Regions from separate parts of the Homo sapiens genome. Here regions 1 and 2 are each linked to region 3. Evidence: fine-mapped expression QTL. A gene starts in region 3. Each other region holds a variant in brackets. All regions are shown on one strand. Distances are between the middles of the regions. Region 1 overlaps TRPC4 (transient receptor potential cation channel subfamily C member 4). Region 2 overlaps TRPC4 (transient receptor potential cation channel subfamily C member 4). Region 3 holds the start of TRPC4 (transient receptor potential cation channel subfamily C member 4).

The links. PIP is the estimated chance that this variant, and not a neighbour inherited with it, causes the effect.
Region 1: its variant is fine-mapped to the expression of TRPC4 in testis (GTEx, PIP 0.93).
Region 2: its variant is fine-mapped to the expression of TRPC4 in ovary (GTEx, PIP above 0.99). The same link has a PIP of 0.9 or more in thyroid.

The regions. Positions count from the first base shown.
Region 1 is chr13:37,811,904-37,822,409 of GRCh38, forward strand. The region is part of intron 1 of TRPC4 (transient receptor potential cation channel subfamily C member 4); the gene reads right to left. Among named protein-coding and RNA genes, the nearest start is that of TRPC4, 53 kb to the right of the region's middle. The variant G/A (reference allele first, on the strand shown) is at 6,154.
Region 2 is chr13:37,710,386-37,720,891 of GRCh38, forward strand. All of the region lies in intron 3 of TRPC4 (transient receptor potential cation channel subfamily C member 4), which reads right to left. Among named protein-coding and RNA genes, the nearest start is that of POSTN, 120 kb to the left of the region's middle. The variant C/G (reference allele first, on the strand shown) is at 6,183.
Region 3 is chr13:37,865,060-37,875,565 of GRCh38, forward strand. TRPC4 (transient receptor potential cation channel subfamily C member 4) reads right to left here and starts at 4,713. Exons shown (of 11, transcript NM_016179.4): 1 at 4,536-4,713. It overlaps LOC124903160 (a long non-coding RNA gene), which reads left to right and starts at 4,084. Exons shown (of 2, transcript XR_007063762.1): 1 at 4,084-5,607; 2 at 7,146-8,840.

The DNA.
Region 1 (10,506 bases), 53 kb before region 3:
TGTAATCCCAACATTTTGGGAGGCCAAGGCAGGAAGATCAGTTGAGGTGAGGAGGTCAAGACCAGCCAGGCCAACATGGCAAAACACCGTCTCTACTAAAAATACAAAAAATATCCAGGTGTGATGGTGCTTGGGAGTTGTAGTTGGGACCTGTAGTCCCAACTACTTGGGAGGCTGAGGCAGGAGCATTGCTTGAACCCAGGAGGCAGAGGTTGCAGTGAGCTGACACAGCACCACTGTACTCCAGCCTAGGCAACAGACTGAGACTCTATCAAAAAAAAAAAAAAAAAAACCAGGAGATCTAATTGCTTCAAGTAAATTAACTGAGCGATAGAACATAACTCAAGATTATTTATAAAAATGCAAACATTTCTAGCACTCAACAAAGTAAAATTTATAGTATCTATCATCTAATCAAAGACTATCAAGCATATAAGTATGAAAAAAAATACAAACCATTATGAGGAGAAAATTTAATGAATCTAAACTCACCTAGAACTCACAAAGATATTAAAATTAGCAAGAAAAGCTACATTATGACAGTTCTTAAAAGTTTATTAATGATAACTACAGTATGTGAGAAGTAAAATATATTGGATCATTGGATATGCTCAATGGCAGATTAGATATTGCCAAAAAGATTACTGAGCCTAAAGACATAGCAATAGAAAGTATCCAAATGGAACACATGAAGAGAAAAAATTAAAAGAGCATTATTAAGCTGTGGAACACAGTCAGTCACCCTAATATATATTTAATTAGTGCCTCTTGAGAGAGAGAAGGTTAAAAATATTTGAAAAATAATGAAAAAGATGTTTTCCAAATTTGATAATAATTGTTAACTAACAAATACAAGAAGTTTAATAAATCCCAAGCACGAGAAACATAAAGAAAACTACAGCAAGTCATGTGATAATCAAATTTCTTAAAATCATAGACAAAGAAACAAATCTTAAATCAGCCAACAATTGCTCCTTCCCTTGGAAAACAAAAAATGACATGCCACGTAAAGAGAAACAAAGATAAGCAACGACAACTAACTTCTCATTGGAAAAACACTAGTGAAAAAAGCAGTGGAACAGCAACTCTAAAATATTGAAAAAAAAGTCAATCTAGAATTTTATACCCACCCAAAATATCTTTCCAAACAAAGGCTAACCAACCACAAAGGCATAAAATTATAAATCAATAACAAGAAGAAATCTGGGAAAGTCACAAATAGTTAGAAATTAAATGATATTCTCTAAAATAATCAATAAATCAAAGAAGAAATCATAAGAGAAATTAGTTAATTTTATGAGATAAATACAAGTGAAAATATAGCATACCAAAATTCATGGGATGTAAAAGCAGTGCTTACAAGGAAATTTATATTTGTGAATGCCTGTTTGATATATATCTTAAATTAATATCATAAACTTCTATCTTAAGAAATTATAAATGTAAAAATATTAAATCAAAGCAAGCAGAAGAAATAATATATATTACAGTGGATATAAGTAAAATAGAGAACAGAGAAACAATAGGAAGAATCAACAAAACCAATTATTTTAAGCAATCCATATAACTGATGAAACTTTAGCTAAACAGACCAAGGGGAAAAAAAAGAGAAGATGCAAATTATGAAAATTAAGACTTAAACAGGGAACACTACTACTGATGTTACAGAATTAAAAAACATTAAAAGTGTACAACTGTATGCCAACAAATTAGATGAACTAGATGAGTAGACAAATTTTTAGGAATAAACAAGCTACCAAACAGACTGAAGAAGAAATAGAAATTCTTCATAGACTTGTAACAAAGAGATCAAATTAGTAAATTATTTTTTAAAATAACTTCACCAAGAAAAGTCTTCATAGATAAATTCTACCAAATGTTTCAATCATTCACAAACTCTAGCAAAAAACAGAAGGAACACTTTACAACTCATTCTATGAAGGCAGAATTATCCTGACACCAAATACAAAGACATTACAAGAAAAATCTACAAGCCAGTATATCTATGAATAGAAATAAAAAAAGTCCTAAGGATAATAAAAAGACACCAAATCCAGCAGTATTAAAAAATGACTGTATATTATGACCTAGTGGAGTTACTCTAGATTGCAAATTTAGTTCAACAGATGAAAAACCAATATAATACAACAAATCAATACAATAAAAAAACCCACATCATCACAACAATAGACACAGAAACAACATTTCTCAAAGAAATTCAACATCATTTCACTATAGAAATCCTCAAAATCTAGGAATCAAATGGGATTTCCTCAATCTTGTAAAGGACATCTAGGAAAACACACAGCTAAAATCATACTTACTGGAAAATACTGAGCATTTCATCCCTGAGATGGTGAACAAGACAAAGATGCCCACTCTCACCATTTCTTGTCAACAATATACTAGAGGTTTTGACCAGGGCAATTAGGTAAGGGAAAAAAAAGGTATCAAAGTAGAAAAGAAATGAATATAACTATATCTATTTCAAGATGACATGATCTTCAAAAATAAGTAATCCATAAAAATTCTATTAAAGACTAATGAATGGATTCAGTAAATTTATAGGATATAACATGAACATAAAATTAATTATATGTTTATAAAATAAGGAATAATTCCAAAACAAAACTATAGAAACAGTTCCATGTAAAACAACATCAAAAAGATTAAAATATTTAGGTATATGTTTAAGTGAAAGACTTGTAGTCTTGCATTCTTTCACTTGTAGTGAATGACTTGTACACAAAAACTGCAGAATGTCATTGAAGGAAATTATAGGAGATCAAATAAATGGAATGGCATTTTGTATTCATGTATTGGAAATCTTAATGTAAAAATGACACTAATCATCAAATTGATCTATAAATTTAATGCCATCCTTATCAAAATTCCAACTTACTTTTTAAAAGAAATTGACAAGCTGATTCTCAAATGTATAGTTAATCCAAGGGAACCAGACAAGCCAAAACAATCTGATAAAACAGAAAAAAATTTGGAGGACTTGCATTATCTGATTTCTAAACTTACTAAGAAACTACAGTAATCAAGAATGTGTAGTGCTGGAATATTAGACATAAAGGTCAATAAAATTGATTTGAGGGTCAGAAAATAAACCCTTATGCTTATGATCAGTTGATTTTTTTTACAAAGGTGTCAAGAAAAATTTAATGGAAAAAAGATCTTTCAATAAACAGTGCTGAGATGACTATATATCAACATGAAAAAGAATGAAGTTGGACCCAAACTTCATACAATATGGAAAATTCAATTCAAAAAGGATCAAAGATCTAAATGTTAAGAGCTCAAACTATACATAATAACTAGCTAATGACACACTGATACAATCAAACCTGCACATATCAATATTAACCTTGAAACTAAATAGGCTAAATGTCTCACTCAAAAGGCAAAGAGGGGTAAGTTAGATAAAGAAGAAAGACCCAGCTGTATGCTGTCTACAAGATACCCATCTCACATGCAATGACACCCATAGGTTCTAAGTAAAGAGATGGAGAAAAATCTACCAAACAAACAGAAAACTGAAAAAAGCAAGGATTGATAGTTCAATTTCAGACAAAACAGACTTTAAACGACAGTGATCAAAAAAGACAAAGAAGGGCATTACATGATAGTAAAGGATGTATTCAATAAGAAGACCTAACTATTCTAAATATATATGCACCTAACAAGAGGCACTCAGATTCATAAAACGAGTTCTTAGAAACCTACAAAGAGACTTAGATAACCACGCAATAAAAGTGGAAGACTTCAAGACCCCACTGGCAGTATTAGACAGGTCATTGAGGCACAAAACTAACAAAGATATTCAGAACCTGAACTTGACAGTTGATCAAACAGGCCTGACAAACATCTACAGAACTTTCTACCCTAAAACAAAAGAATATACATTCTTCTCATATGCATGTGATACATACTCTAAAACTGACAATCCAATTGTACCTGAAACAATCTCAGTAAATTAAAAAAAAATCAAATCATACCAAACACACTCTCAGAACACAGCACAATAAAAATATAAAACAATAGTAATAAAATCATACAATTACATACAAGTTAAACAACCTACTCAAGAATGACTTTTGGATAAACAGTAAAATTAAGGCAGAAATCAAGAAATTCTTTGAAATTAATGAGAACAAAATACAACATATCAGAATTTCTGGGACACAGATAAAACACTGTTAAGAGAGACATTTACAGCACTAAAAGCACACATCAAAACGTTAGAAATATGTCGAATTCATGGAAGGGCATTATATAATAGTAAAGGATTCAAGTCAACAAAAAGAGCTAACTATCCTAAATAGTCACACAACACAGGAGCACCCAGACTCATAAAGCAAGTTCTTGGAGACCTTCAAAGAGACTTAGATACACACACTGACAATATTAGACAGATCACTGAGGCAGAAAATTAACAAAGATATTCAGGACCCAAACTCAGCACTGATTCAAGTGGACCTGATAGATATCTACAGAACTCTCCAGCCAAAACAACAGGATATACATTCTTCTCATCGTGACATGGCACATATGCTGCCATTTCTGCTGAAACTATTCCAAATATTTGAGGAGAAAAGACTCCTCCCTAACTCATTCAATGAGGCCAGCATCATCCTGATACCAAAATCTGGCAGAAATACAGCAACAACAATTTCAGGCCAATATCCTTGAAGAACATTGATGCAAAAATCCTCAAGAAAATAGTCACAAACAGAATAAAGTAGCACATAAAAAAAGCTAATCCACCATGATCAAGTAGGCTTTATCCCTAGGATGCAAGATTGGTACATATGCAAATCAATAAATATGATCCATCACATAAACAGAACTAAAGACAAAAACCACATAATTATCTCAATAGACACAGAAAAGGCTTTCAATACAATTAAACACTCATTCATATTAAATATGCTCAATAAACTAGATATTGAAGGAAAATACCTCGAAATTAAAGAGCCATCTCTGACAAACCCATAACCCACATATTACTAAATGGCACAAGCTGGAAACATGCCCCTTGAAAACCAGCACAAGACAAGGATGCCTTCTCTCACCACTCTTATTCAACACAGTATTGGAAATCCTGGACAGAGCAATCAGGCAAGAGAAAGAAATAAAAGGCATCCAAATAGGAAGAGAGGAAGTCAAACTATCCCTGTTTGCAGACAACATAAGCCTTTAACTAGAAAACTCCATAGTCTCAGCACAAAAGCTTCTTAAGCTGATACACAACTTCCGCAAAGTCTCAGGATACAAAATCAATGGGCAAAATTTGCTAACATTCCCATAAACAAACAACAGTCAAGCTGAGAGCAAAATCAGGAATGTAATCCCATTCACAATTGCCACAAAAAGAATAAAATATCTAGGAATATAGCTAACCATGGAGGTGAAAGACCTCTACAAGGAGAGCTACAAAGCACAAAGCTCAAAGGAATCACAGATGACACAAACAAATGGAAAAACATTCCATGTTCATGGATAGGAAGAATCAATATCCTAAAAATGGTGATATTGCCCAAAGCAAGTTATAGATTCAATGCTATTCCTATTATACTACCATTGAGATTCTTCAGGGTAGTAGAGAGAACTATTTTAAAATTTACATGGGACCAAAAAAGAGCATGAATAACCAAGGCAATACTAAGGAAAACAAACAAACAAACAAACAAAGCAGGAGGCATCATGCTACCTAACTTCAAACTATATTACAGGGTTACGGTAATCAAAACAGCATAGTACTGCTACAAAAGCAGACACATAGAACAATGGAACAGAATAAAGAACCAAAAAAAAAGGCTGCACACCTACAACTATTCAATCTTTGACAAATCAGACAAAAACATGCAATTGGGAACAATGTCCTATTTGATAAATGGCACTAGGATAATAGGCTAGCCATATGCAGAAGATTGACATTGGACCCCTTCCTTACACCATATAGAAAAATCAACTCATGATGAATTAAAGGCTTAAATGTAATAATCAAAACTGTAAAAACCCTGGAAGACAACCTAGGTAATACTATTTAGGACACAGGAACGTACAAAGATTTTATGATGAAGATGTCAAAAGCAACTGCAACAAAAGCAAAAATGGACAAATGGGACCTAATTAAACTAAAGC[G/A]CTTTTGCATAGCAAAGAAAATGATTAATAGCGTGAACAGACAGCCTACAGAATGGGAGAATACTAGACAAAGTCTAGTATCCAGCATCTGTAAGAAACTTAAATAAATTTCAAGAAAAAAAATAAAAACCCCAAAAGTGCACAAAGGATGTAAACAGGCACTTTAAAAAAATGCAAATCAAAATTACAATGAGATACCATCTCACACCAGTTAGAATGGCAATCATTAAAAAGTCAGGAAATGACAGATGCTGGAGAGGATGTGGAGAAATAGGAATGCTTTTACACTGTTGGTGGGAGTGTAAATTAGTTCAACCATTGGGGAAGACAGTGTGATGATTCCTCAAAGATCTAGAACCAGAAATACCATTTGACCCCGCAATCCCATTACTGGGTATACACCCAAAGGATTATAAATCATACTACTATAAAGATACATGCACATGTATGTTTATTGCAGCACTATTCACAATAGCAAATACTTGGAACCAACCCAAATGCTCATCAATGATAGACTGGATAAAGAAAATATGGCACATATACACCATGGAATACTATGCAGCCATAAAAAGGGGTGAGTTCATGTTCTTTGCAGGGACATGGATGAAGCTGGAAACCATCATTCTCAGTAAACTAATGCAGGAACAGAAAACCAAACATTGTTTGTTCTCACTCATAAGTGGGAGTTGAACAATGAGAACACATGGACACAGGGAGGGGAACATCACATACCAGGGCCTGTCAGGGGATTGGGGGCCATTGAAGAGATAGCATTAGGAGAAATACCTAATGTAGATGATGGGTTGATAGGTGCAGCAAACCACCATGGCACGCGTATACCTATGTAACAAACCTGCACGTTCTGCATATATATCCCAAAACTTAAAGTACAATTAAAAAAAATACATGTGGCCAACAAGCATATGAAAAAAAATTTTTAAAAACCATTAATAATAGGAAAAGGTTATGAACAGACACTTTTCAAAAAAGACATAATTGTGGCCAGGAGGCATATGAAAAAAAGCTTAATATCACTGATCATTAGAGACATGCAAATGAAAACTACAATGAGATACCATCTTACACCATCAGAATGGCTATTATTAAAAAGCAAAAAAATTACAGATGCTGGTGAGGTTGTAGAGAAAAAGAAATGCTTATATACTGTTGGTTGGAGTGCAAATTAGTTCATGCATTGTGGAAAGCAGTGTGGCTATTTCTCAAAGATCTAAAGACAGAAACACCATTTGACCCAACAATCCCATTACTGGGTATATACTCAAAGGAATACATATTATTCTAATAAAAGACACATGAATGTGTATGTTTATTGTAGCACTATGTATAATAGGAAAGACATGGCATCAACATAAATGCCCATCAATGATAGACCAAATAAAGAAAATGTGATACACCATGGAATACTATGTAGCCATGAAAAGAACAAGATCATGTCCCTTGCAGGGACATGGATGGGGCTGGAGGCCATTATCTTTAGCAAACTAACGCAGGAACAGGAAATCAAATTTTGCATGTTCTCATTTATAAGTGGGAGCCAAATGATAAGAACACATGGGCACATAGAGGGGAACAACACATACTAAGACCTATCAAATTGGGGAAGATTGGAAGAGGGAGAGGATCAGGAAAACAATGAATGGGTACTAGGCTTAATACTTGGGTGACAAAATAATCTGTACAACGAACCCTCATTACACAAATTTACCTATATAGTAAACCTGCACATGTACCTCTGAACTTAAAATGAAAGTTAAAAAAAAAAACAAAAAAAGATGTCAAATTAACAACCTAACATCACACCTAGAGGAACTAAAAAAACAAGGGCCAGCCAACCCCAAATCTAGTAGAAGGCAATAAACAACCAAAATCAGAGATGAACCAAAGGAAATTGAGATGTAAAAAACCACACAAAAGATCAACAAATCCAGGAGTTTGTTTTTTAAAGAAAAAATAAGATTGATAGACTACTAGCTAGACAAAGATATAAAAGAGAGAAGATCCAAATAAACTCAATCAGAAATGACAAAGGATATATTACCACCAACCTCACAGAAATACAAAAAATTCCTTAGAGTCTATTTTAAACAGCTTTATGCATACAAACTAGAAACCCTAGAAGAAATGGATACATTCCTGGAAACACGCAACCTCCCAAGATTGAACCAGGAGGATATGGAATTCCTGAACAGACCAATAACAAGTTTGGAAATTGAATCAGTAATAAAAATCCTACCAACCAGAACATGTCTAGGATATGATGAATTCACAGTGAAATTCTACCAGAGATATAAAGAAATAGTACCATTCCTACTAAAACTATTCCCAATAATTGAAGAGGAGACTCCCCCTTACTCATTCTATGACGCCAGAATCCTCCTGACACCCAAACCTTACGGAGACACAACCAAAAAATAAAACTTCAGTTCAATATCCTTGTCAAATATAGATGCAAAAATTGTCAACAAATACTAGCCAACTGAATCCAGCAGCACATAAAAACGTAAATCCAAAATGATCAAGTAGGCTTTATCCCTGCAATGCAAGATTGGTTCAACATGCTCAAATCAACAAATGTGTTTCACCACATAAATGGAACTAAAAATAAAAATCACATGATTATCTCCATAGATGAAGAAAAGGCTTTCAAAGAAATTCAACATCTTTCATAGTCAGAACCCTCAACAAACTAGGCATTGAAGGAACATACTTCAAAATAATAACAGCCATCTAAAAAGACTCACAGCAAACATTATACTGAATGGGCAAAAGCTAGAAGCATTCCCCTTAAAAACTGCAACAAAACAAGGATGTCCTCTCTCACCACTCCTACTGAAGATAGTACTGGAAGACCTAGCCCAAGCAATCAGGCAACAGAAAGAAATAAAATGAATCCAAATAGGAAAAGATAAAGTCAAACTATTTCTGTTTGCAGATTACATGATTCTATATGTAGAAAGCCCCATAGTCTCTGCACAAAAGCTCCTTGATCTGATAAACAACTTCAGCAAAGTTTTGGGATATTAAATTATTGTACAAAAACCAATAGCATTCCTATACACAAGCAACATCCAAACTGAAAGCCAAATCATGAATGAAATCACATTCACAATAGCCACACACACACACACACACACACACACACACACACACACACAAATACCTAGGAATACAGCTGACCAGGGAGGTGAAAGATCTCTACAATAAGAATTACAAAACACTGCTCAAAGAAATCAGAGATGACACAAATGAATGGAAAAATAGTCCAAGTTCATGAATAGGAATAATCAATATTGTTAAAATAGGATACTGCCCAAAGCAATTTATAGATTCAATGCTATTCCTATCAAATTACCAATGACATTCTTCAAAGAATTAGAAAAACTATTTTAAAATTCATATAGAACCAAAGAAGAGTCCAAATAGCCAAGGAAATCCTAAGCAAAAAGAACAAAACTGAAGGCATCACATTGCTTGACTTCAAACTATACTACAAGGCTACAGTAACTGAAACAGCATTGAACTGGTAGAAAAAGAGACACATAGAGCAATGGAACAAAATAGAAAGCCTAGAAATAAAGCCACATGCCTACATTCATCTGGTCATTGATAAAGTTAACAACAGCAAGCAATGGGGAAAGGTCTCTCTATTCAATAAATGATGCTGGGATAACTGGCTAGTCATACGTGGAAGATTGAAACTGGGTCTTTCCTTACACAATATACAAAAATCAGCTCAAGATAGATTAAAGACTTAAATGTAAAACCCAAAACTGTAAAAATCCTGGAAGATAACCTAGGAAATACCATTCCAGACACAGGCCCTGGCAAAGATTTCGTGATGAAGATGCCAAAAGCAATTACAATAAAAACAAAATTGACAAATGAAACCTAATTAAACCAAAGAACTTCACACAGGAAAAGAAACTATTAACAGATTAAACAGACAACCTACAGAATGGGGAAAATATTTGAAAAAAATGCATTTGACAAAGGTCTAATATCCAGAATATATAAGTAACTTAAATTTATAAGAAATAAACAAACAACCCCATTAAAAAGTGGACATGAACAGACACTTTTCCAAAGAAGACATACACAAAGCCAATAGGCATGTGAAAGAAGGCTCAACATCACAGATTATTAGAGAAATGCAAATCAAAACCACAATGAGATACCATCTCAAATTAATCAGAATGGTTTTTTTTTTATTATTATACTTTAAGTTTTAGGGTACATGTGCACAATGTGCAGGTTAGTTACATATGTATACATGTGCCATGCTGGTGCGCTGCACCCACTAACTCGTCATCTAGCATTAGGTATATCTCCTAA
Region 2 (10,506 bases), 150 kb before region 3:
TATTTATTTTTGGTTGCTACTCCTTCCTTTTAAAAAGAGTTGTTTATTTAAATTTTTCAGATTTTAAGAGGGTGTTATTACCTACACCACACAGAAAAAGTACTTCATGAGATTATCTCATTCCTATTTTTCAGCTATGGTTGAATGCATTTTGTAAGTTTGGTATGGAAATTATTGGTTTTCACATCAAAGAGAAAGACACAGCTTAGGAATATTAATATAAAGTAACACATGACTGTTTCCTGGCAAAATACATTACTAAATACATACTTTCTACTTCCAAACACATTATTTGTCCCTTATTCTGTTCAAAAAAATGTTAGCTGATGATCTTCTTTATGGGTCTTGAATCTGTCTTGTCTCTAAGGTATAAAATCTGTATGACTAGAGATATCTGGCCATGGATTTTATCAGTTACAGATTTTCAATTAGGAAAGGGAAAAAAGTGAATGAAAGCAATTATTTTTTGAATGGAAAGATAGACTATTGCTTTTATATGAAGGTAATTGAGAAATAAGCTTCTGGGGCCTATATGATGCTGTATAATTTGTAATTAGTTATTCTCTCTTATACCAGGCAAAGGCTGATTTTGTACTTTAAAATGAAACTTCATTAAAAAATCTTCTTCACAAAGTAACCACAAAACAAAGTCTACTGTTGTGAATATATTAATTCTTAAGTCAATGATCTAAAAGGTCACGCAGAATGTGTTTAGATAAAATAGTACTACATACCTTTTGCTTAAAATATTTGTGTTTTTATACTAGAGGTCTATTATTGCTGCCCATTTTGAAGCTTCCTTTTGTTTGCATTGTACAAATTCACAAATAACTTTTTGGAACAGAGTTTAAAGATAATATATTCCATGAATTATTTTAACATCATATTAAATAGATGATCATAGAAATGGTTATTTCAAACAGAACTTCTCTGCAACATTTTCTAAGGGTTTATGGTATAAGCAATGATAGTACTTTGAAAATTGTTAAGTATGATACAAATATTGTGACAATTAGATCTTAACTGTATTCAATGTGAAGTAATTTATTAATTAATAATGGAATAAACAAATCCATGATTCCAGTTTAAAGATTCCTGAATTCTGTTACATTTAAAGTTTTATTCCCTGTGCTCCCAGAATAAATGAATCACCAAAATGTGAATAAATTTGAAGTTCACTTTAATTATTTTCACTACCATTCAAGATATAAGTCTCTGTAAGATATAGCAAAGATATCTAAGAAAAAAATACAGTAATCTGTAAAGAGATTTAAAGTGAATATCTTTCTATATTTCTTTACATAATTTTTTATTTTAATACTTGGCTTGTTTGCCTTGACCAGTAAACTATAGACATTTAATGTATAAGTCTGGTACAGTGCTGTCCCCCAAAATAAAACGTGAGCCATATTTGCAATTTAAAATGTTCTAATAGACATATTTCAGAAAAGAAAGTAGAAATAGGTAAAATTAATTTTAATAATTAATTTTAATAATGGCATTTAACATATCTAAAATTATTTCATAGTAGGATATAAGCAATATAAACATTTATTAATGAGATATTTTGCATTCTTTTCCTTTCTTTTTTGTACCAAGCCTTTGAAATCTCGTGTGCATTTTACGCTTTCAGCATATTTCCATTTTGACAAACTATATTTTGAGTGCTTAAATGCCTCATGTGGCTAGTGGCTACGATATTGGAAAAGGCAGTCCAAGTGTTGTTAAAGTCATAGATGATGGATATCTTTAGAAATTTCAAAAGAACCCTCAACAGGTCTATTCCAGAAGATAGGGATTGTGGTTATGTCCTTGATTGCCTTTCTCTCCAAAGATTGACAAGTGGGCAGTCAACTGATGATCCCCACACTGCTTTTCACTATTACCCAATGCTACATAGTACAGGGGATTTGCATTCCTCTCTCCCACTTATAGAGCCCCTTTTATAGTGCTAAAAGAAGATTCAATAACGGAGATCTCCAAGACTTTAGAAATGGGATGTCCAGTCACCGATTTCTGTTCCTAGGATGGACTTTGGAAGCAGATAGCCCTGCCTAGGCAATGATACCTAGTCCCATGCATTTTTTCATTGTCACGCTATCAGTGAGCGATCACTGGTGTTAATAGTTCCTATCTTGAAAAGTAGATAGGACTGAAGTAGTTCAGCTTATCAGTCAGTAACGTTTCTGTATAGCATATTTTTGAATAGGAAATCAGATTACTTTGCCCCTTGCTAATATTATCCTCAAGAGCATGGGAGAATTGGTCAGTTTTTATGTGGGAGCATTTCACTAATGGATTGGCTTGAGAGAGGTTCTGCCAAAGGAGCTTTGTAAAACTTAATGACCTGGAAAAAGCATGTCTAGAGAAGGGTGAGAGGCTGAAATAGATGTCAGGGGGGCCAAAGATACAACCTGCATATTAGCAAATATCTCATGTGCCTGAGATCTTAACACTGCAAATGAGTTGCTTATTGTGCATTTGTATTTGTTCCTCAAAAGAGAAAGAAATGCATGAGGTTTACTTCCAACATTGAAGATGCACATGACTGAAAAAAGTTGAACAGACAAAACACATGCATGCTCACACAAGCACCCTCTATGTCAGGCTAACTAAGATTTGTTGTTCTTAGAAAGTTAGAGGTATAAGGCACTTCAAAAATCATCAAGCATTTCATTTTTCAACCTTTTGTTTTTTCAACCAGGAATCTGACGACCATGGAAGCCAGGTGAATTTCCAGGGACACAAAACTAGCAGCAGAAGCAGAGTTAGCTCCTTATAGATGTGGTATTGATTGGGCCTTCCTGGGTGAGGGAGAAGAGTTTTGGGATTAAGTCAACCCCAAAATGATTTAAAGATTATATAACTACAATTCCAAGTCAGTAGTTACAGAATTTGCAAAGGAACTGTATTACTTACATGACCACGTACCATTTTACATTCTTTTATCTAGATAATAAAAGGCATTAAACAAGTAATCCTGGTTTAATCAACCTCTAAAGATTGCCTGAAATAAAAGCTAAACTTTCAGTTATAAAGTACTGGCTCTTTATTTAACAACTTTTCTTTTCTTTCTTTTAATCTTATGGAGTCCCTGGGATTGTTGTAGACAGTTTCTCATTATCTGAATAACCAACATAGTCCCTTCAAAGAAAGATAGCTGTTTCCACTGTCTGTCTTCCATGTCTTACTTGGTGTTTTATAAAGGGACTAAAAGAACGTTTCAGTCTTAAAAAACTGAGGAAGAAGAGTAATTTTACATAGGATCAGGTATAGTGATCTGAACATACATAATGGAAAAGAAAAGGAGAAGGTGGACTCCCACCTCCCTCAAAAAACCCATGGATGTTTTGTTTTGCAGTTTAGTTTTTATTCTAGAGGGTCAAGTAGAGGAATCACTTACTGATCCTAAGGATTAATAAATCAATGTTCTCTGCTATAAGAGAGGTGAGTCCAGGAAGAAGAGGTCATACACATAGTGACCAAGAAGTGGCTATATTTTTAGGAGGAATCTGTGCATTCTTTGTTTCTATTTCAACTTTTATATAGGAATTGCCTAGGTTTATCCCTATGCATTCCCTTCCTTTACTCCACGACTTTTCCTGAATCCTCCATTTCTCTCTCTGCTTTTATTACTGCACCCAAGCTTGCTTCCTTCCTTCCTTCCCTCCTTCCTTCCTTCCCTCCCTCCCTTTCTCCCTTTCTTTTCTTTTCTTTTTTTTCTCTTTCGCTCTCTCTCTTTCCTTTCTTTTCTCTCTCTTTTTTTTGTCTTACTCTGTCGCCCAGGCTGGAGTGCAGTGGTGTGATCTTGGCTCACTGCAACCTCTGCCTCCTGGGTTCAAACGATTCTCCTGCCTCAGCCTCCTGAGCGGCTGGGACTACAGTCATGTGCCACCATGCCCGGCTAATTTTTGTATTTTCAGTAGAGACAGGGTTTCACCACGTTCACAAGACTGGTCTCGAACTCCTGACCTCAGGTGATCCATCCACCTTGGCCTCCCAAAGCGCTGGGATTACAGGCGTAAGCCACTGTGCTGGGCCTATTTCTTATCTGACATATTTCAGTTACTTGCCCCACTCTATTCTAAACACAACATCTAAACTGATCTTTTCAAAATCACACATTTAATCATGACACATAGCTGCATAAAATCTTTTAAAAGCTGCTTTTAGCATTTAGGATAAAAACTAAAATTCTTAAAGAGGACACGCCCAATCTCACCTCTGCCTACTACTCTTTAGGGTTAGCTCACCCACTAGCCTTGCTCTCTGTGCTCCAGCCACACTGATTTCTGCCATCAAAGTATCACCCCACATGATGCTCCCTTTGTCTACTATTTGTAATCCCTCACCGCTCCTTTACTTCTTTTTTCCTCCTATTCAGTCAGTTCAGATTCCCTCTGGCATTGTTACATTGCTCCATATATCCTTCTTCATAATGCTTTTCAAAGACTGCACTAGTACTTTAATTTGAGCCATTATTTTTTATAATCTCTCCCACTAGACTGCTAGTTACACAAGGGCAAGAACTCTACTTATTCACCTCAGCATTACCAAAGCCTAACAATTCCTAATACGTATAGGTACACAAACAATATTTGTTTAATGAAGAATAAAGGCATGTATGCATATGTGTGTGCATAAATAAATTGATGAAAGCAATGAGATACTTATTGCACCTCTCCTAGAATAGTTCAGAGTGATCCCAATAATTTGCAGGAGTTTCATGGTCTAAAGAGAGCTGAAAGCACTTGTCTAGGACCACCTTCCAGACTTGTCCACCTTTCTTATTCCTTGTATCTTAGGCTGGATATGGCTGGAAGGTATAGTATGAGCCACGTGATATTGCCAAAGCCAAGAGCACAATGCCATTTGCAGGCCAGATATGCATATCTCTATGTCAACATATAGACCTGTAGGAAATCAAGGAAATCAACAAAGTAATGCATCTTTGCATAGGTTGAATGGTAGTAAATGAATAAGAGAATTTTCTATTTTACAGAAAAAGCATGTATTATATGAAGTGTCCAGACTCCAGAGCCAGAAAGATCTGTCTTTAAAATGCAGATTATAAAAATAGTTGCCTTTTGGGGAAGAATCAAATGAGATAAAGGATGTGAAGAGCTTATTACAGTACCAGGTGCAAAAATATTATTAGTTCTTTCCTTCTTCCTGCCGTCCCATCCCAATGCACATATTTGCATTGAGGACATTACACAGCTTAAAACAATTTGAAATATTGCTGTATCTACTTGCAACTACAGTGAGATAAGTGGGTTCACAAACTTTAATCATATGTTGCTTTTTCTGGACACCGCATCCGACCTCATAAGGAATTATTACTCACTAGATCATAACATCATAGGCTGTTTTGTCAGATAAGACACTTGCGAAATCTACCAGTTGAAATGTGATCTTGGTCATTATCCAGAATTGGCCTATATTAAAAATTGTCTATCTCTCTCCTCTTGTAACTGTATATGGAGGTTTGAATTGCTTGCTAGGAATTATCCCTGCCAACCTATGACAGATACAGCGAAGTGACTCAGAGGAACCGTGGGAATGTGCCTCAGTGCCCCACTCCATTTTAGGAGCCAAGGCGTACACATAGGCATTTTGCATGTCCTTTTTAAGAGCCTCAAGACCTGATAAAACTTTGTTAGAATGTAATATGTTGTTTTTGAGTGTTTGTATTTTTACAGACTAAGAGAAACATGAAAACTTTTTTTTCTCCTTGCTGCAAATCAAAAGCCAAGAGAAAATATTGTTTAAAACATATCTTAATTTGTTATGTGTTGTTGGTGTGACTTCCTGCATAGTTTCTTAGATGGAATAATGCTTTGGCAATCACCTTACCCTTCAAGGTACAAAAAAATTCTAAGTACTAAAATATACGGGAATTACAAGTAAGGAGACGAATAAATTCATTAAAGATGAGGTACCTTCTGTTAGAGGAGAATTTTGAATCCTAAAATTATAAGTACATTAATTTTAAAACTACTCACTTGAATTTGCACTTCTATTTCATACCAACTGTTCATTAGCAAAGGTTTCTTTACCATACATTTGCCAATACGGGGTAGCTCATGAAGAGAGCACTGGCTTTGAGTATCTAGTCAAGTTTTGTATAAGAAAACTTCTAGGCTGAGTTATTCTTTTTCAAAATAAAGTTGAACTCTGAA[C/G]CTACATAGTATCTTGAGGAAGTGGTTAGTACTTTGTGTATGTGGTGGGAGGGGAGGTCATTCTGAGGACATAAAAGACATTACTGCTAAAATATGAATGTTGATTCTTAAATATTTTTAACATAAAATTTCAGATAAACAGATCTTAAAAAAAACCACGCACTCTCTCTACTCAAGGGCTATTTTTAATCGTTACAAGTCTCAACGAGCATGGTATTTTTAAACTAGGAAGCTGGAAAAAAACATTTTTATTTTTAAATTGTCCTTTGTGAGTTTATTTTCCTCATAGCTGCTTCTCTTGTGTACGTCTGAGTTCTTAAAGTGTTTTTTTATCATGTTTGATATAGGAGACTAAGAGAGAAGTCTGGTGGGGACGGTGGTAAAATATCATAGACTGAATACATGTTTATATAACCAAACGCACACTCTTTGATCTGGCGACCTAGAGTAAGTGTGTAATAACACAAGTAGGTGGAAAACAAAAACATCAGAAGTGAGGCTGCCCAGAAGATAGTAACTTATTTCCATGACAATACTTCATATTCACAACATTTTACAGGGAGTTATAAGGGAGAAAATCAGTTTCAAGAACAATTTTCAAAAATTTAATGATATAATTCTCAGTGAATTATATTGATTTAGAGATTTATACTGAAGCTTTTCACAGAGTGAACAGCTAATAGATGACGATATCAGAAAATAGTTTTAGAATAGAGGACTATTTCTACATTAGAAACATACAGATTTTAAGTCTACATTTTAAATGCTATTGGCTACTTAATAGTAGGAAGAGGAATGGACATAGGTTGTATTTTACACACCAACATGAGTTTATTAGCAACGTGGGTCTAGAATGTATACTGAAAGGGAGTAGCCTGTCTGAATCTCTGTCAGCTGTGGTGTGGCTGAAACATTTCTTTATGAGCTGTTATGGTCTCAATTGTGTCCTCTACCCAAGATTAGTATGTTGAAGTCCTAACCCCAGAACCTTAGAGTGTGACAGTATTTAGAGATAAAGTCTTTAAAGAGGTAATTAAGTTAAAATGAAATATAGAGGGAAGACCAGGTGTAAATGCAGAAAGAAGAGAGTTATATTCAAGCCAAGGAGAGAGGTCTCAGGAAAATCCAACCCTCTCTATGTGTTGCTCTCAGTCTTCTAGCCTCTAGAGTTGTGAGAAAATAAATTTCTGTTGCTTAAGCTACCCAGTAAGGGGTACCTTCTTATGGAAGCCCTAGGGAACTAACATATAGACCAACCCCCCCGAAAAGAACAGCTATAACTTTGAAGAAAACACAATGAAAAACTAACCTTTAATTATAAAAATGAATAAAAACAGGCAGATTCTGGAAGACAGTAAAAACTTGGAAGAAAGGACCAGGCCAATGAGTTTCTTATTTACTTATTTGTTTGCTTGTATATAGCTAGTAGCCTGAGGGCAGGCTACCACTGTGGTACATTGTGGAGTGGCAAGAACTCTGAAAATATGAATAATAATGGCCTACAAAAATATATGACAGTATTCAGGGCAACCACAACTGCTAGAAAATGAAGAGAGAATTCCATAAAAGAGGGAGTCAGAAAAAAGATTCCCAAATTCTCTGCAGAATCCTGAGCCATGCATACGTAGGGCAGACTGCAGACAGTCTAGGTAAAGGGGATTTAGAGAAGTACTGAACTGAGATTTTAAGTATACTGACTTTAAACTACAAAACGCACACACGCACATACACACAAACAGACAAAACTTGAAATGATTATAACAGAATCTAGAGTCTCCACAACAACTTACAGCATCCAAGATACAATGCAAAATTTCTCCTTCTAGAAAGAAGCAGGAAAATGTGATCCATTCTCAAGAGAAAAGACAATCAATGAAGACTGACCCTGAGATGACCCAGATAATGGATTTAGCAGACATAGACTTTAGTTATTATAACTAAGCTCAAGATGGCAAATGAAAAAATATGGTAATAATAAATGAAAACATAAGAAATCTCAGCAGAGAAATAGAAATTATAAAACAGCAAAGTGGAAAGTTCAGAACTGAAAATAAAATACCTAAAATATAAAAATATTACTGAATGAGCTTAACAGCAGAATAGATATGACAGAGGAAAGAGTAAGACAAGCCAAACACAAATCAAGAGAAATTATCCAATCTAAGGAAAAAAGAGAAGGAAATATTAAAATAAGCTAATAGAACCTTAAGTATCCATGGGATAATATCAAAAGGTGTATTTGAAGTCTCAGAAGAATAACAGAAAGAGAATGAGTCAGGAAAAGAATATTTGAGGAGATAATGGCATAAAGTTTCCTCCAAATTGTTGAAATACATAAATTTACGGAATCAAGAAGCTCAGGAAAACCTCAAACAGAATAACAATGAAGAAAACTATGCCACAACACATTATAGTCAAACTTCTAAAACAACAAAAAAGAAAAAAAAATCTTAAAAGCAGTCTGAGAAAAATGGCATATTATATGCAGGAGAACACCAATTAAAATTATTGCTGACATTTCATCAGAAATATAGAGCCCAGAAGGGAATGGGGCAGTATCTTTAAAATGCTGACTACGAAAGACAAAAAACTGTCAATCCAGAATTTTATACTGAATGAAAACATTCTTCAAGAATGGAGATAAGTGGTACATGCCTATAGTCTCAGCTACGTTGGAGGCTGAGGTGGGAGAATCACCTGAGTCTGGGAGGTTGAGGCTGCAGTGAGCCGGGATCATGCCACTGCACTCCAGCCTGGGTGACAGAGTGAGACCATGTCTTATAAAAAGAAAAAAATGAAGGTAAAACAAAGACATTATGAGATAAAAGAACACTAAAAATATTTGTTGCCAACAGACATGTACTACAAGACATGCTAAAGAGGATTCTTCTGGTTTAAAGGAAATGATACTGGAAAAAAAACTCAAATCAGTAAGGAATGAAGAACATTAGAAAAGGCAAATAGGTATATAAAAGATCATTTTTTCTATTATTTGAAAAATAAGCATACCAATGTGTAAAGCAAAAATTAAGACACTGTCTTGTGATGTTTATAATGTATGGAATGTATATGTCAACTACAGCATAAAGAACAGCAATGTGGGGTAAATGGGCCTTTTCTGTGGCAAAGCTTCTACATATTGCATGAGGTATACAATATAAACTCCAAGTAGATTGTGAAAAATTGAGGGTATTGTGGCAGACAGAATAATGCCCTCCCTCCAAAGATGTCCATGTGGATATGCTATGTTACATGGCAAGCAGGAATGAAGGTTGCAGATGGAATTAAGGTTGCTAATCAGCTAACATTAAAATATGTTTTAATGTTAAAACATTATTCTGTTTTAGAAATGTTAAAACATTTCTAACAGAAAAATTATTCTGGATTATCTAAGTGGGCTCGGTGTAGTCAGAAGTGTTCTTAAAAGATGGAAGAAGGAGGCAGCAGGAGGCTAAGGTGATGCTGCTGAGAAGGACTCAACCTGCTACTATTGCTGGCTTTAAAGATGGAGGAAGAGGAAAAGATGGGAAGATCAAGGAAAATGATTATCCTCTGAGCTTCCAGAAGGAATGCAACCACGCCAAGATCTCAATTTTAGCTCAGTGAGACTTGCATCGTATTTTTGACATATTGCCCTATAAAATAATAAAGTTGTGTTGCTTTGAGCCACTATGCAAAAATCTGTTACAGCAGCAAGAGAAAACTAATTAATGTATACATTGAAATTCTGAAAGCAACCACTAAAATATAAGGTGAAAAGGTATAGCTATCTAGGGCAGATCCTAGAACGAAAGAGAATGCCAGATACTTGCCATTCCTAGTAATGGGACGCCTAAGTCTGTCCGTTGTTTTGGACATGAGAAACCGAGCAATGAGGTTATTATTAGTAGTAGTAGTATTATTTTGCTTTTTCCTAGAATCATTTTTTCTGCGTTCTGAACTTTTCTGTGTTTCTGGTGTTCTGAATTATCTAGTGAGGATGGATTTAAATAGTCATTTTATTTTATACTAAAATAATCAGTATTTAAGTGTTTTACAAATAAATATTTATTTCTCAATACCTCAGATAATGACAGATACACCTAAATATTGGCAAAACTAATCTTTTGCACTTGTACTGTTATACAAGTTTTACTCAGGAGTATATTTATTTTTCATTTTTCATTTGAACACCTATTTCCTATTTTGTTAACAGGAGTTTCACTTGGGTACATTCTGAATATACTTCATTTTCAATTCTTTAGGGATACACTTATTTAATAATATACAGAGACACAGCTCAGGATATTTATGCAACTTAACAATTGGTGCAGTCTAATCTCTA
Region 3 (10,506 bases):
TCAATGTCAATAGGTTTTGGACACAATCCTGTCAGCGCAAATGCATATATATGTTTAGTAAATATCATGACAAATTCAGCTAATCGATGTCTTTTGGGATGCATGAATGAGAGCTCCTCTCAAATACCAAGGGACATTAAAATAATTGGAAAATTAAAATTTCAGGGAAAACTAAAACAAATACACTTGTCTAGAAATTTTACATAACATTGATAAGATGTAGTATAAACCTAACATGGCCTAGCATGACCTTTTTTTTAATAAAGACATTTTATTACCAGCTTACAGATGGTCAAAAGGTTAGCATGATAACTTTTTATTTATAAATTATAAGCTCATGAGTATTTCTAAAAAATTATAATCTTGAACTTTGTTCATAAAAACAAACTTTTTTTTTCTTTTTACATGTATTAGATTTATATTTAAGAATAAGAAAGGAAGTCATTTTGAGATCATCCTGCTCAAGATAAGTAGCTTATCTCTTGCTCTGCTTCAAAACTGATGGAACTTTAACAGACTATTGTTTCAAATTCTATCCCCATGATGGGGACAGTTGTTTATATTCCAATGTTATAATATTTTTAAAATTCAAGAAACAAATAGCTGAAAAAATGAATTTATGAAACTTGTTAAAAGATTATTGATTGTATTTTAGAAACCACAGGAATTAAGTAAAAAGAGTGTAGTCTTTACCATCAGGTAGACGTAGTACCTGATAGTAAAATTTGATATACTTCAAATCCTGCCTTCCCACAAAGCAATTTTGTGATTTTCATAAATTTCATCTTTCTCAGGTTGTTAAAATGTGATAATACTTCAGTTTCAAGGTAGATGTTAAGATAACAATGAAAAATAGCTTTCTTTTTCAAAGTTTCTCACATAGTGCCAAGTGTACATTAAATTCTCATAAATATTGGCCCATTTTCCCTCTTTTCTTTTTTCACAATAGGTCCTGTTTCAGGTAAATTTGAACTCTTGATAGTATTTGCTTGAAGTAATTTTTCAACATATTTCAAAATCTAACAGCAAACCACAGACAGAATATAATTAATGAATATCTGATTCATTTAATTTCACTGTCATTTCTCAAAAAGAATGCAGTGTGCTAGATAAAGCTATCAAGGCATATTTTTAAATTAATGTTTTAATTAACATTTCTAATTTTATATGTAACACTGTGTCCATGTGTCACTTAGTGTCTCTCAAGAAGTCATTATTCTATGACACTGCTATATTTTTAAAAAGAGAGATAAAACATACACTAATATTAATAGGATATTACATACAGTTTAGTTACAATAGTAGATCAAGTTCTGAAACTATTTCTTTCTTATTCTATTAAAATTAAACAACTTTCAGGAGGGTCACTTATATTTTTTAAACATTTAAATACAGCACTTAATTTGCTAAATAGTTCATGAAACCACAAGGTTTTGAATTAATACATTTTCAATGCGCATGCCTTTAATTTTCAGTTTCCCAAACAAATGGTGTCTTTCCCTAAATGCATTTTTTGCATCATAAAGTTATTTTGGTAATACTAATGTTCTCAAAAATTAGGTCTATATTTGTGCTGATTAAAAAGACACAGCCATGATATTATATCCCTGATCAAAATATTCTCAAATCTCTTAAAATATTGCGGGGTCAATGCCTCTGGAAGGGTGAGAAATAGAAAACATGAGTAGTGAGATAGTTCTAAATCAACTCTTCATTATAACTAGATAGAAACAAATTCCCAATTAAATTTGGGTTGAGTCGAACCAGTTTTAATGTTTATTTTTTGTGGGGGGGGGCGGGTATAGGGTATAAATTAGGTGAAAAGGCAAAGTTTTTATTTTGAGCTGTCTCCTCAACCTCATTTTTAATGAGAACCAAATAATCATGGTGGGGTTTCCATAGGCATTAAAGAGGTCAATAACACTGGTTCCAATTGAGTCTAGGCAATTCAATTTCTAAAGTCAAAGTGCACATTAGAATTTGATTTCATAAGCTATATGGCAATGATGGTTTTGGAAAAAGGAAAATTTAATAGTTTATTGTATTTTCCCTTTACCTGACATTATTTTCAAAAATACAACAATCATATTTTCATAAAATATTCAGTCCCTAATTTTATAGTTCTAGCTACTGCTTAGTATTTCTCATATATCTATCTTTACTTATATATCTATACTAACTTTAAGCACTGATAGTTACAATACTTACTATTGAACAAATGTGTGCATATTTTTATTTTTGTTCCAATATATGCATCGATCAGAAAAGAGAAATTATTTCAGTTTTCAGCTGCTAAATATAATGCTGATCATCTGAATTGCTATAAATAATCCTGGCAATTAAACATGCAGGTATAAAAATAAAACAGACTATTTCCAAAAATATACACTTAAAAGTAGTTTTAATTCAGTGGGGTTAAAATCAGTGCATCTTAAAGGGGGTTATTATATTTCAATACAAATGTAATTGTCTTTATCACAGGGTATGCTGATAGCATTTGACTAGATGATCAGATGTTTATAACTTTGAAATCATAAAAGAAAAATTAAAAATAATGATTGTCATTGTTTCTATCTTTCATCTACAGTTCAGAAACAGCAATTTTTCTAAGCTTAGTTATTACAGTGAAGTTTATAACAACATCTAGTTCACAAAAATATTGATAGACACAGCCATCCAAATATTGAAAAATAGCCAATCTAACTTCCAGATTCCTTACCAATTAAAATGATGTAATAGTTTATAAACATAAGTTGTTGTTTTTTAATATTTATTTAGCTTTGGATTCCTAAATGAGGATGTTGAAACAGGTAACTTTTCAGTCCTATAGATGGCTGTAGTTCTCCATGGAGCATAAGTTAGAAAGTTAGTTTGAAATGTGTGTATAGAATAAGACATTAAAATTTCCTCTAATGAGAAAGAATATAAAGATTGCTTCTGTTATTTCCTATTAATACACAGTATGAATCGATTAAGGTTATTTTATATGAAAAGTTATTTGGTCTCTTACTGGTCTAATAATTAAAATAGCTATAAAATTCAAAGAGAACTTTAACTCTGTCATAGACTTTTTAATGCAGTTTTATCTTGACCTTTTGGAAATAAGTGCAACAGAAAAATAAATAATATAACCATTACAAAATTTTAAAGGTTATAAGTAATGAAAATCTATTCCAACTCATATATCTTTCAGAATGACCAGTGAGCAAGTAAATTGAAATTGATCTTATTGTTTTTTTTCCCCCCTTAAACATTTAAGGAGGATGTTTTCTGGACAATAGTGTCCAGGTGAATAAGAAAGTAGGCGCTACAAATGTAACTTTAAATAGCAAACCCAACACAATGATGAAGATTTCAACATTTTAACATCTCCACCCACTCTTACTCTCAATGTCTAATTTAGAGTTTTACCAAAAACACCCCAAACCAAAAAACCCTCCAGTAAACCTTTTGCTTAAAGAATTTGTAATATTCTTTGTGCTGTGATTATGTACTGTGAAAGGAAAGGCAGAAATTATATGAGCTCTGAGAGGCGGTGTTTTATTAAAACTGAAAAAGTTTTACAAGTCTGTCTATTTTTTTTTTTAATAAAACAACTAAAGCTTCCTTCTGTCTCTTCCTACTCCTTTGGCTTGGTGCTTACTCCTTAAGCAACTTGCTGCATTTTATAGCTATGGAATTTCACTGGGAAGGGCCTCTCTAAGAAGCCATGTGAACAGGGATACACCATAGTGGATACACCATAGTGAATGCAGGCAGACAAGATAAGAGATCCCTTTCCTCAGCTCTCCTAAACCCTCGATGCCTTTCCAGTATTCTCTTGTCTCTAGTCGCAAAAGACAGCTGACTTCACAGCTGGAACAACAAGTTGTGCAGTGAATCCCAGTGATTTAACCAAGTAGCAAACCGGGTCATTGGCTTCATTGGCTTCATTGGAATCTCGGTTGCCAGGCGAACTAGGAATCACTAGCCTGGGTCGGGCAACACGGATAAAAGTGTTTCTGTTTCTTGACAGAGAATGAAAACGACGCAGAATGTAATCGATCGGTAGAACATTGATCACTCTCCTTCCTTCGTTACCCTACTTTAAGTGCCGGAGAGCTAAGGCCTCACTTATATGCACCCAGATGCCCCCGAGATCTCCATTTTCCCCAAATGCATAAAAGGCTAAAAACGGCCACATTCCCCAGCACCACGGCGTGGCTGCAGCTCCTTTGTTTACCATATAAGTCACACCGGGGGTTCACTCCTCGCCCTCTCCCCTGCTTTAAAGCCGAGTGCGGCGGAAGACTGAGGAGCACCCCCAAACTCCTGCTCAGCCCGAGTCAAGCACCGAAAGCTTCACAGGTTTTTTTCCTGAGCCTTGAAGAGAAACCACATAGCCAGAACCTTTTGAACTCCTAACCCCGCAGGGATGTCCGCCTCCCAGAAGAGAGCCGGCTTCCCAGGCAGCTTAGGAAACTTAACCGAGATCCCAGAAAGAAGGCGAGGTGTAGCTCCGGTCGAACGGAGCCCCGAGGCGACATCCTCTTTACCTGCAAAGTTGCAATCTTCGGGCTGAAGTGATGGGATCCGAGGACTGACGGCGCGGGTGCCGTGCGGGGTGAGAGCACGCCCGGCAAATTCCAATGGAATTCCCTTAGTCGCTGCTGAGTTTTGGAGCATTCCAAGGAAAACGATCGAAGCTGGAGCCCACGCAGCTGGCACCGAACTGGGCGGAGTGAGGATGCTCTGAAAGCGAAGCCATGGGAGGCGGGGGAGGGGCGGCCCGGGAGGGGGAGGTAACCGCCAGGGGAGGAGAACCTCTCCCACCCCCGCCTGCACAGATCCCTCTGGATAAAGTTAAGAGTTCCCACGGCTGACAGCGGATGAGCCCAGAGAAAGGCACCCCGCCCTCCGTCCCTGGTGGCTGCCGGGCTCGGGGTCCGCACAGACCGCGCTGGAAAGGGATAGTCCGGGAAGATGCGCGTCCCACGCACCACACTGCTTGGAGGTGGAGGAGACCCGCGCGCTGGCAGGAGCTGACGCTGCGTCCCCAGCTTGTCCCCCTCGAATAGCCTCCACCTACCGGGGCCAACTGCTTGAGGTCAGCCAGTGGGCAGGGGAGCTCACCACCAGCCAGCCGTCATCCAGCCAAGTCGGTGGCGAGAATCCACCCTGTGGTTCTGGATGCAAGCCAGACACACCTCCAGGCTTAGGGCGGTCTCTGCAGGCGTGTTGGACTTCAGTGCGCTCCGACACCCAGCTTTTGAATGCCCTGCTCCCAGCCCGGTAAACAAGCACCCATGAGGCCCGCCGCCCGACCGGAAAAAAGTAGTCCCCTGCAACTCTCAAAGCTTCTCCCACTCCCGCTTCTCTGGGCGACTGGCACCCCCTCTCCTGTCCTCAAGGTGTCAGACTTCCCTTGCAAGAGCTGGAGGATGCGGCTTGCCACTAGTGTCAACAATCAAAACAGTCGCAATGAATAAATGATGAGCCACAGCGTTCCAACCACCCTCATCCAGCTTGGTCTTTCCAAAAGGCATAGGAAATCAGCAAGTTTCCACCAAATATACCAAAACCCTAAGACGCGAGCCAGCCCAAGGGTGCAAGGTTCTGCGGCTGCAGGTGATGTGCGTGTGTGCGAGTGTGTGTGTGTGCGATACTGGTACCATCTTACTGAGAGTGAGATTTCAAGATAAACGTTATCTCTTGTCCAATCTCTTTAGTGTTCACATATGAAAATAAGATTAAAGTACAGAGAGGAATACACACACACACAAACCACACACACACTATTGGCAAAGTTGGCAATAACACTTGCTGTAACTGCAACACGGTGATTCCCAGCTTGTCACTCGGAAAGTCTTAATTGGTTGTGACCCCATGACCCAGAGAAAGATAGAGTTCACGTGTAAGATAGAGAGTGGAGCCCTTGAGGAATCCTAGCTGGCAATTACCCTCCTCGAGACTCTGTTTCTACCTGATTGCCGTTATTTTCTGAAAGCCCTGAGGTTAGCTGCTGGTCTCTGATTGTATCCCAGCAGACGCCTGATTCAGCTTCCAGTCTGCGCAAAAGCTTAGGAGCAACCGTTTTCTCCTATCCCAACCAAGTTGTTACACCTGGGAAGCTGTGCTGTGCCGACTGCAAGGCGGACCAGTTTCTTCCCATGGAATATTCCCAAGGAATATAAACTGACAAACTGGCATCCATATTCAGACTCTAAAGCACAAAATTAAAGAATTTCCTTTTTTATCTTTCCTACCCACTTCAGAGTTCACATGAGTTGAGGTTTTTGTAAATAGTTTTCACATGAGTAAAGAGGATATTACCAGAGATCACGCTGGGGTAACTGTGCATGCTGCTTTTTTTTTTTAAGTCACTTTTCTTATTTGTTAATTTATCTTTCTCCCTGCCTAACTGCTCCTCTATGGGTTTGTTCCCAGCTCAGCTAGACCCCTATTCTAAATTTCTGAGATACTAAGTCCTTCCCAAAATACTAAGATACATTGAGATAAACCTGGTTTCTACAATGCTACTGCAGTAAACAAAGGAGAGAACGACAAAAGGCTTTTCTCCTTCCTTGAATCTCTTTTTACTCTTTACTACAAGAAGAATATATTGACATGTTTAAACAGTTCTTTACTTTTCTTAACATTAAATGAAGGCTTTTAAAAATATGCAAAATGTATCTATCAGTAGACAAGGTAATAACTTTATAATAAATTCAAGTCCACTTTCTAACAAGGGAGGGGAGACTGTAAACATATATATGGAAATCTATTTTATTTAATGGAACTGTAAGTATTTTTGTGACATTTATTGACAATGTTTCTTCTTAGCCTGAAAAACAAAATTCTACATACTGTGTTTGAGTTTATATCTTTGAGATCAACCCGTGGTAGATAGAATTCCACATACTGAAATGAGTATAGGTCTTTATAATGCATATTAAAATACATGCAAGAGAAAAGCTGATCAGTGACAAACTTGTCCATTGTTTAGAAGTGATGAACTTTACTTTGCAACCTTAGCATCTGTACCAAGTTAGATGCTCCTGCCCTCTAAGGATTTGTTCTTTGTAGCAAATGTTATCTCTGTCATGATGTCAGCAAAGAGATATTATACCAATTTTTTCTAATTTGTTATTTCTTTCCATAAAAAGGTGCCTATGAAACTGCAATAAATACATAACAGAAGAGAACACCAAGGAGAGCACTATATATGTCAACCATCTGAGCAGGCTGTATTCCCACGGAAAGAAGAATTTGTATTGATCACTGAGCCTCCTTTTCAACAGTTTCATGTGATTATTGATTGCTGGTCTCAGGTCTCCTACAAAATGATTAGCAATTACAGGAAAATTATTTGAAATCTGTTTAAACAATCTGGTGAATTGCATATACTACAGTCATTAGCAATCCAAAGAGTTTATTTTTAACAATTTAAACATATGAGTTTGGCAGCATTCTACGAACCTGCACTCCACATAAAATGCAATTCATTGAAGTCAAAGAAATTTACAATAAAATGTTATATGCTATCTAGAATTTATTTTAGTACCTTATTAAACAGAACAAGAAAGCACTCATGTTTCCAAATTAGCAAGAGACAAGTGACCCAAGAAATGATAGCAGTAAAACAATTCTCTGTAATGTCTATTTATAGCTAAAGTATATTGTAGAATTGGGATCACAATTGTTTTAGGAATACAATTTTCACTTTACTCCTAAAGGTTATTGTTCTGTTTAGGAGCTGACATGTAACATGTATGAAACACTGTTTCAAAGCTGTTATACCTCAGACATAGAGACAAAGTCACAGAGACAAGTATTTGGAGAATTTATTCATGCACATGTGTCACCATCAGCATTTTTATGTGCCAGTAATGCATCTGTGTATGATGCCATCATGAAGTATATGATATTGGCCTTTCTGATGCTAAGATAAATTAAGAAATAGGTTATCATTGTCTTTGATGCCCATGTGACCTGTCTTCCACCTTTGTGACCAGGCCTTTACCTCCTACTGCACAAGGGCTCACCCAAACTCACTGAAGGGGCTCCACCTCAGCTTAACTTTTGGATTTGGCTCCTGCTCCAGGTTTTAGAATCCTCTGTTCTGTCATCAATGTAATGAGGCTTCAATCTAACCTACATGGCCATGCTATACACACAGCTTTTACCTGCCTATTTTTTAAAAAAATTAACATTTTCTAAGTTATCAAAATGTTATTCAAAAATGTTAATTTTAATGAATCACTACTTATTTCTATGAAATACTTAAGTATTTTTCAGGTCTTGAAAGTGTAATTGTTTTTATACTATTATTCCCTACTGGTATACTTTTGTTGAAAGCCGTTACACAAGCATTTTTGTCTGTATCTCTAATTATGTCCTCAGAATAGATTCCTAGTAATACAGCCCTGTGTCATGATGCAGAAATATTTTAAAGTACATGCTGTATGTTATAAGGGAGCTTGTTGCATTGAACCCTCATCAATACGGGGCATCCTTAAGGTCCTTTTTCTTCTTTTCTTTTTTTATTTTGACTGATTTCCTACTTGAAAGAAAATGGTATCTCAATGAGTTGTGTTAACTAGAAACGGTGACTTTTATATTTTGTGTACTTTGCTACTTGTTTCTTTTTGTGAGTTTACATACTTTTTCAATACTTACGGGGTTTTGTTGCTATTCCCCCATTTGGTTTATAATAACTCTTAATATTTGAACATTAGTACATTCCCATATTTATGGAAGATATTTCTCAGTTTTTAATTCTTTGTTAAATTTGGAGGTAATGTTATTTATTTTAAAGATGTTTCATTCTTACAAACATTAAACTATCAAATTTTCCCTGATAATTTATTTTAGTGCTTTAATGCTCCTAATATCTTTTTCCTCTCATATTCACTTATTTTTTCAAGCTTTTAAAAAATGATTTCATGTTTAAGGCAATTGCTTAGTCATTAACTTCATAGACCCTGGAATCATGTTATCTAAATTTAAAATCCCAGTCTCAACATTCATTCAACGAATATTTACAGAGTCTATGTTTAAATATTTTATGGAGTGCAAAGCATTGTACTAGGTGCTTCCCATACATCTGTGAGCAAAACAGATAAGATACTGCCGTTGCTGAACTGATATTTTGAAGAGGACAGACAAAAATAATAAATATATTAAATAAGTTAATTACATACTATATTAGAAGGCAATTAAAAGAACAGGGTATGGGGGCTGGGCACGGTGGCTCAAGCCTGTAATCCAGCACTTTGGGAGGCCTAGGTGGGTGGATCACGAGGTCAGGAATCGAGAACATCCTGGCTAACACCGTGAAACCCTGTCTCTACTAAAAATACAGAAAAATTAGCCGGGCGTGGTGGCGGGCGCCTGTAATCCCAGCTACTCTGGAGGCTGAGGCAGGAGAATGGCATGAACCCGGGAGGTGAAGCTTGCACTGAGCCGAGATTGCGCCGCTGTACTCCAGCCTGGGCGACATAGCGAGACTTTGTCCCAAAAAAAAAAAAAAAAAAAAAAAAAAGAACAGGATATGGGGACTAAAAATGCTGATGGTGACAGATATTGGTGGTGGGTTGCAATTTTAACCAGTTGTCAGGGGAGTCTTCTTTAATCTGGAGACATTTAAGTAACAATCTGTAGGTTAGAGAACTGGCTGTAGGGATTCCCTGGTGAACAGTGTTCCAGGTTGAGGAGTAGGCTGAGCTGATTTATGTTGTAAAGTATTTTTCTTGCCGCTATAGTGAGGATAGACTTGGGGAAGCAAAGGTGGAAGCAGGGAGAACAGTTAAGAACCTACTGAAACAAACCAGGAAATACGGTGTTGACCAATTTGTGCAAAGTAGAGGTGGATTGAAGATCTAGTCTGAAGATAGATTGAACCGAATTTTCCAAAATGTTTGTATGCAGGCTATAAGAAGAGTTAAGCATAGCTATGAGATTTTTGGCTTGAGCACGCAGATGATTCTGAGTAAAGGATATTGTAAGATGGAGAAGATAGGAGTTAGGACTGGTTTTAGGGAGAAGATTAGGAATTCACGTGCGGACATATTAAGTCTGAGATGGCTATAAGAACACTTAAAAGCTGTGTGACCTTGGATAATATCACTGAACTTCCACATGACTTGGTTTTCTCATCTGTAAAAGAGTGAAGTAATTGTTCCTACCTCATAGGCTTGTTATGAGGACCAAAGCATTTTTGTAGGTAAAGCATTTACAAAAGTGATTAAAACAAAATACGCAATGTGTAAGTTTTGCCTCATTATTATTATTAGATATAATTCCAACATATTTGGAACTAACTTAAGCATGCATTATTTAGTGATGATCTAACTGTTTCTCTTTTACAAAATAGGAAACCAGTACGGTTTATTACAACTGGAAAATAATGAATTAATTCTTCATTTTCATACTGATTGATGATATCATGTCTTTATTATAAACCACATTCTTCTGCCAATGCCTCTTTGCAAGCTATCTATTCTTTACCTCTGATACCTTCCTTTA